Regions from separate parts of the Homo sapiens genome. Here region 2 is reported to be linked to region 1. The links are microRNA targets in miRTarBase. Many come from high-throughput screens and were not tested one by one. Region 1 holds a microRNA gene; the other region holds the end of a gene's coding sequence. Distances are between the middles of the regions.

Region 1 (3,396 bases):
CCTCCTGGGTTCAAGGGATTCTCCTGCCTCAGCCTCCGGAGTAGCTGGAATTACAGATGTGCACCATTGCACCCAGCTAATTTTTGTATTTTTAGTAGAGACGAGGCTTTGCCATGTTGGCCCTGTTGGTCTTGAACTCCTGACCTCAGGTGATCCTCCCGTCTCGGCCTCCCAAAGTGCTGGGATTACAGGCATGCGCCACCGCGCCCGGCCTATTTTTTACTTTCTTGAGACTGAGTCTCACTCTGTTGCCCAGGGTGGAGTGCAGCAGAAGATTTCAGCTCACTGAAAGCTCAGCCTCCTGGCTTCATGTTGGCCAGGCTGGTCTCGAACAACTGATCTCAGGTGATCCTCCTGTCTCAGCCTCACAAAGTGCAGGAATTACAGACAAGAGCCACCATATGCACACTAGTCCCATATTTAAAATTAGGAAAAAAAAAAACAAAACAAAGATGCCCACACCTGAACAGCAAATCGTTTGTTGTTCAAGTACATCTCAAATACATTGTTTATCTAAAATACAAGTTTAACTGGGGTCAGGTATGAACCAAAGAACAGTCCTTACTTTCTTCTTGTCTGTGCATGGGGGGTTAATATTCACATGTGGTCCCATCTACCAAGGACTGGGGAGGGGCAGAGGCAGGAGGATCTAAGCCCACTTCAGCCAGGGCAGCATAGTGAGACCGCCGTCTCATGCATTTATCTCCTGGTCATGCACCCAGATTTCAGCTTCATTTCCCCAATAAACACTGAAGCCCCATGCACTCCACCTCCGTGCTCTTGCTCATCCCATCTGCAGGGACACTGAGGTCCCCTCAACTCCACCTGACCCCACGTGAGGTTCTATACCAGTGCCAGAAAAATTTCCATAAAGTAAAAGGTGCTGATGGCTGTGCCCGGTGGCTCACGCCTGTATTCTCAGCACTTTGGGAGGCCGAGGCCAGCGGCTCACTTGAGGTCAGGGGTTTGAGACTAGCCTGGCCAACATGGTGAAACCCCACCTTTACTAAAAAAAAAAAAAAAAAAAAAAAATCAAAATCAAAAAGTAGCTGGTTGTAGTGGTGGGTGCCTGTAATTCCACCTACTCAGGAGACTGAGGCAGGAGAATGGCTTGAACCTGAGAGGCAGAGGTTGGAGTCAGCCGGGATCATGCCACTGCCCTCCAGGCTGGGTGACAGCAACACTCCATCTCAAAAATGAATGAATGAATAAAAAAGAAAAATACAAATATTAGCCGAGTGTGATGTCAGGCATCTGTAATCCCAGCTACCCAGGAAGCTGAGGCAGGAGAATCACTCGAACCCGGGAGGTGGAGGTTGCATTGAGCCAAGATCGCGCCACTGCACTCCAGTCTGGGTCACAGAGCAAGACTGTATCCCATAAAAGGACCATCTGAGCCCAACAGGCCTATCTTAAAAAGTGCTTCTCTAGTCTCTCCTGGGCAACAGAGACCTTGTCTTAGAAAAAAAAAAAAACACAAAACAAAACACACACACCAAAACAAAAAACAAAAACCTAACAAACAAAAAAACCAACCAAACAAACAAACAAAAAAACAGACTCCCAACATCATCCAAGTCTGATTACAAGCATGGTCTGCAAATGTATTACCAAGATCAGCATCATCTTCAACGTGGCTTTTCCCAAACGGTAACACTCTAAAGGGAGGCACTTTGTTTAAGAGAAAACAAACAGAAAGCGCTTCCCTTTGGAGGGTCACAGCATGGGATCTTCTTGCTCCAGCACTCTGGGTTTTTTGTTGAAATCTTCCTTGACCAGGTTAAAATGGCCACAACAATAAAGATGCATTTATTGGCCCTGTTTGCCTGTTTTCTAGAATCCAGAACATAAACCCCTAAAAGGACCATCTCCAGTTCCTTTCTTCAAAGGCTCTGCAGGTTAGCCTTGTTCATCAAGGGGCAACCCTCCTGAGTTTTGCCTCTAAAGAGAAAAAGCAATGCCTACTACACATACCTTATATTTAACCAAGAGAACTGGGCTGGATTTCTAGAGAACAGCAATGGACTTTGAGCTGAGTGTTCACTTGAGTTCCAGCACAGGGATACATAGTTCCGATGGGAGCATCCAAAATGGAGTCTAAGATGTTGAAGAATATACATTGTCACACACACAAACATCCTCCAGGATAGACCACAGGCTAGTGGATCACCTGAAAGCGGGAGTTCAAGACTAGCCTGGCCAACATGGTGAAACCCGTCTCTACTAAAAACATAAAAATTAGCTGGGTGGGGCAGTAGGTGCCTGTAATCCCAACTACCTGGGAGGCTGAGGCAGAAGCATCACTCGAACCCAGGAGGCGGAGGTTGCAGTGAGCCTAGATCATGCCAGTGCTCTCCAGGATGGGCAGCAAGAGTGCAGGACACGATGGTGGGTGCCTGATGCCTGAATTCCCAACAATTCGGCAGGCTGAGGTGGGAGAATCACTGGAACCCGAGAGGTGGAGTTTCCGGTGAGCAGAGATCCTGCTACTGCACTCCCAACGAAACAAGAGTGTGTCTCAAAAAATCAAAAAATAAAAAGAGGACCACTTAAGCCCAAGAAATCTTGGTGGAAGGTGCTATCCACCCACGCCTGGGCAATAGAAAGCCTGTCTTGGAAAAATTTCAAATCACAAACAGAACCCCGACATCATGCAAGTCTGATGATAAGCACGCTCTGCAAATGTATTACCAAGATCAGCAGCATCTTCAACGTTGCTTGTCTCAAACAGTAACACTCTAAAGGGATGCACGATCTTTTCTTTTATACAACAGACAGTGCTTCCATCTAGAGGGTCACTGCCTGAGATCTTCTTTTTTTTGACACGGAGTCTCACTCTGCCGCCCAGGCTGGATGCGGTGGTGGGATCTCGGCTCATGGCAACTTCTGCCTCCTGGGTTCAAGCGATTCTTCTGCGTCAGCCTCCTGAGTAGCTGGGATTAGAGGCACCCACCACCATGCATATTGCATATATGACTGCATATATGACCTGGTCATGCACCCAAGATGTTGGTTTCATTTCCCCAGTGAAAACTCAAACCCCATGCACTCCACCTCCGTGCTCTTGCTGAGCACATCCCATCTGCAAGGGACACTGAGGTCCCCCTTTGACTCTACCTGACCCCACATGAGGCTTTATAAATCAGTGCCAGAATAATTTCCATGGACTAAAAGGTGTTAATGGCCATGTGTGGTGGCTCACGCCTGTAATCTTAGCACTTTGGGAGGCTGAGGTGGGCAGATCACCTGAGGTCAGGAGTTCGCAACCAGCCTGGCCAACATGGTGAAACCCCGCCTCTGCTGAAAATATAAAAATTAGGCCAGGCGTGGTGGCTCATGCCTGTAATCCCAGCACTTTGGGAGGCAGAGGCCGGTGGCTAACTTGAGGTCAGGGGT
Region 2 (3,184 bases), 35 Mb from region 1:
AATTCACACATTTTGCTTGGTAGGAAATATTTTTATATTAATTCTGAAAAGCTACAAAAGTGCATTTTTACAAACTTAGGGGAAGTTGAGGTTCCTGGGGTGAGTCCTCGGTTCTCCCAGCTTTGCTCTGTAATGCAGGTCTCTGCAAGGGTCCCTGTTTGTCCCCTAAGGGGAGAGCGCAGGTTGGCCTGTGCCTCCACCCCACTCCCGATTCAAGCTCACAGCCCACCTTTTCCCTGCCCCATCTCAGTGCAACAGGTGATCGAGAACCACATCCTCAAGCTCTTCCAGAGCAACCTGGTGCCCGCTGACCCTGAGTGAAGGCCGCCTGCCGGGGACTCAGACACTCAGGGAACAAAATGGTCAGCCAGAGCTGGGGAAACCCAGAACTGACTTCAAAGGCAGCTTCTGGACAGGTGGTGGGAGGGGACCCTTCCCAAGAGGAACCAATAAACCTTCTGTGCAGAATGAGGGACTTTGCTGTGCTTCCCGGAGGGCTTCCTGGAGGAGACAGCCCCTAGAGGTCTCACACCTTCTCCCCAAGCACCCGCAGGTGGTAGATGACCACACGGCCAAAAAAGTCAGTGGCATCCTCAAACGTCACCTTCAGCCGGTCCACTTCAGCAGCTGGTATGGGGAAAGTGTGAGCGTGGGCAGTCAAGGGAAACTGGTGATTTCTGGTTTCCCACCCGCAGGCCCCCACCCCTTCCAGACCCAGCTCACACTCCACCGATGTGGGCAACCTGGGGAAGCTGCAGGTCCCTCTAAGCCTCTCACACAGAACAGGTGGTCATCAGCACCATTTTACAGAAAAAGTGGAGTCCTAGAGGTCACGTGTTCAAGATCACACATCAGGGTTCCCATTCGGGTTTGGGTGAGTCCAAAGCTTCCAGAGGCACAGACCACCCACCCCAGAAGCAGGGGCAGGATATCTGAAGCGAGTTGTTGTCCTCAGGGTAGAAATCTACAATCTTGTGGAGAGCCTGAGTGCCCTGTGAACCTTCAGCAGAGAAAGGCAATGAGTGTCTGGGGTGACCCCTGGAACCCCTGCCACCCAGGGCCTTCTAGTACCTTCCAGGCAGCCCCGGCGACTGGAGAAGCCACCCTGAAACTGGATCTGCAGCTGGGAGACACGGATGAGCTGGGGAAACTCCAGCGTCACCCACTGGGAGGGGCCCTGGAAGCAGACAGGGAAACTGAGGCGCAAGCTCACTGCAGGCACAGAGCCCTGCTATGCCTGTCTCATTCACATAGTTCTTGGAATGGAGGGGAAGAAGGAAATTCGGCACATGTTCCTTTCCTGGCCACCCATGAGGGCCCCCTGACGTTCTCAAGGCATGAGATCTGAATCTGAATCACCCTAGAGATGGAGGGTCGAGGGAGGCGCCTCACCTGGTCTGAGTTCCAACATGTCTCCTCATCCTGGTCGAAAAGATGTTTTTTTCCAAACTGCCGAGTGTTGCGATTCAGCACTGAACTCACCCTGGAGGCACCAGGATCAAGGCGAAGAGAGGGGCTGAGACCAGCTCTCAGCTCCGCGGAGGGCCTGACCCCCAGATCTGTCCACTGAGGGCTCGACCCCAGGCTTAGGGCCTCGCCACTGCCTGTCCCCACAGACTCTTACCTGCTCACTGTCTCTGGACAAACCAAAGAGTGGGTCATGTCGGTTCCACAAGACCTCGCAGGGCTTAGGATTGGGCACAGCCTTGGTTCGAATCCCGGCGCCTCCTCAAGCTACAGGGCGGCGCGATCTTGGCTACGCCTTGGCCTGAACGTCCTCACCTGTAACTTGGGACGAGAACCGCCACTCCCTCGCCCACCCCAGTCCTAAATGTCGCCTCGATCAATCCCCTGCCGGAAAATTTGGGAGAGAGGATCAGGGAAACCGCCAATGCCCGGAGGCCAGGCCTTTCACAGGAAACAGATTTCCCGCGGGTTTCGGGGGCGGTGGCTTTTTGTGCGAGGCTGTTTCTCTGCGAATAGCTCTTGGAGCCAAATCTTGGGACCCGGAACCGCGTGGGCTTGGCGCATGCGTGTTGTAATTCAGGCGCCGACCGCGGACGCTCCAGAGGTGGGGTTTGGTTCGACCCCGCCCCTTCATGCTCGCTTCTTAAAGGGCCCGGGTTCGATGATTGAATTTACCTTGGTTCCCTTGAAGCTGTAGGGAAAAGGCTGGCTGCGCGCACGGGGCGCTGTCCCTCGGCGCCCGAAGGTGTAGAGCACTGATTTTGACTGATTTTGGAATCCGAAAGACTTCCTTTTTTTTTTTTTTTTTTTGAGGCGGAGTCTCACTGTCGCCCAGGCTGGAGTGCAGTGGCACGATCTCCGCTCACTGCAAGCTCCGCCCCCTGGGTTCACGCCGTTCTCCTGCCTCAGCCTCCCAAGTAGCTGGGAATACAGGCGCCCGCCACCACGCCCGGCTAATTTTTCGTATATTTAGTAGAGACGGGGTTTCACCGTGTTAGCCAGAATGGTCTTGATCTCCTGACCTCGTGATCCAGCCGCCGGGGCTTCCAAAGTGCTGGGATTACAGGCTTGAGCCACCGCGCCCGGCCTTTTTTTTTTTTTTTTTTTGAAGTGGGGTCTCACTGTCACCCAGGCTGGAGTACAATGGTGGGATCGCGGCTCTCTGCGACCTCTGCCTCCCAGGCTCCAGCAATCCTCCTACCCAGCTTCCCGAATAGTTGGAACTAGTAGGCGCGCGCCACCACGGCAGGCTATTTTGTTTGTTTGTTTGTTTGTTTGTTTTTTGGTAGAGATGAGGTTTCGCCATGTTGCCCAGATTGGTCTCGAACTCCTGGGCTCAAGTGATCCGCCCACCTCAGCCTCCCAAAGTGCTGGGATTACAGGCGTAAGCCACCGCGCCCGGCCAGAGAGACTTCCTATGACAATGTCTTTCTTCCTACTCTAACCTACTCTACCCTAACGGCTACCCTAACCTACTCTAACCTACTCTACCCTAACCACTAAATGCAGCCTGGGAATCCCCGAACTTCACTGCCTCCCGGAGGCCAAAGGCAGAGTTGTGGAAAAGGCCACGATGTTGGGAGTATCTGAAGTCCTCATCAACCCTTTTTGTTCTTGTTGGGACAGAGGAGCCCTGGCCTCCAAGTTTGTCTTTCCCAGAAAATGCTGCTGGGACGTCAAGGAAGGCTTCTTGGAGGAGGGAGCATGCGAGGTCGGG

The links. Region 1 holds the annotated microRNA hsa-miR-519d-3p (CAAAGUGCCUCCCUUUAGAGUG, at 1,655-1,676, opposite strand). A microRNA usually pairs through its seed, bases 2 to 8, with sites in the 3' UTR of a target mRNA and lowers its output. Matches are read on the target gene's strand: a 7mer-m8 pairs with bases 2 to 8, a 7mer-A1 pairs with bases 2 to 7 and ends in A, and an 8mer does both.
Region 2: miRTarBase lists RFXANK as a target of hsa-miR-519d-3p. The part of its 3' UTR that is shown has no 7-base or 8-base seed match.

What each region holds. Positions count from the first base shown.
Region 1 is chr19:53,711,680-53,715,075 of GRCh38, reverse strand. MIR519D (microRNA 519d) reads right to left here and starts at 1,729; the gene lies at 1,642-1,729. MIR517A (microRNA 517a) reads right to left here and starts at 2,808; the gene lies at 2,722-2,808.
Region 2 is chr19:19,201,399-19,204,582 of GRCh38, forward strand. It overlaps RFXANK (regulatory factor X associated ankyrin containing protein), which reads left to right. Exons shown (of 10, transcript NM_003721.4): 10 at 251-468. The coding sequence ends at 321. NR2C2AP (nuclear receptor 2C2 associated protein) reads right to left here and starts at 2,016. Exons shown (of 5, transcript NM_176880.6): 1 at 1,625-2,016; 2 at 1,393-1,483; 3 at 1,072-1,177; 4 at 933-1,000; 5 at 11-643. The coding sequence starts at 1,662. The coding sequence ends at 527. RefSeq lists a silencer at 992-1,258 and an enhancer at 1,922-2,216.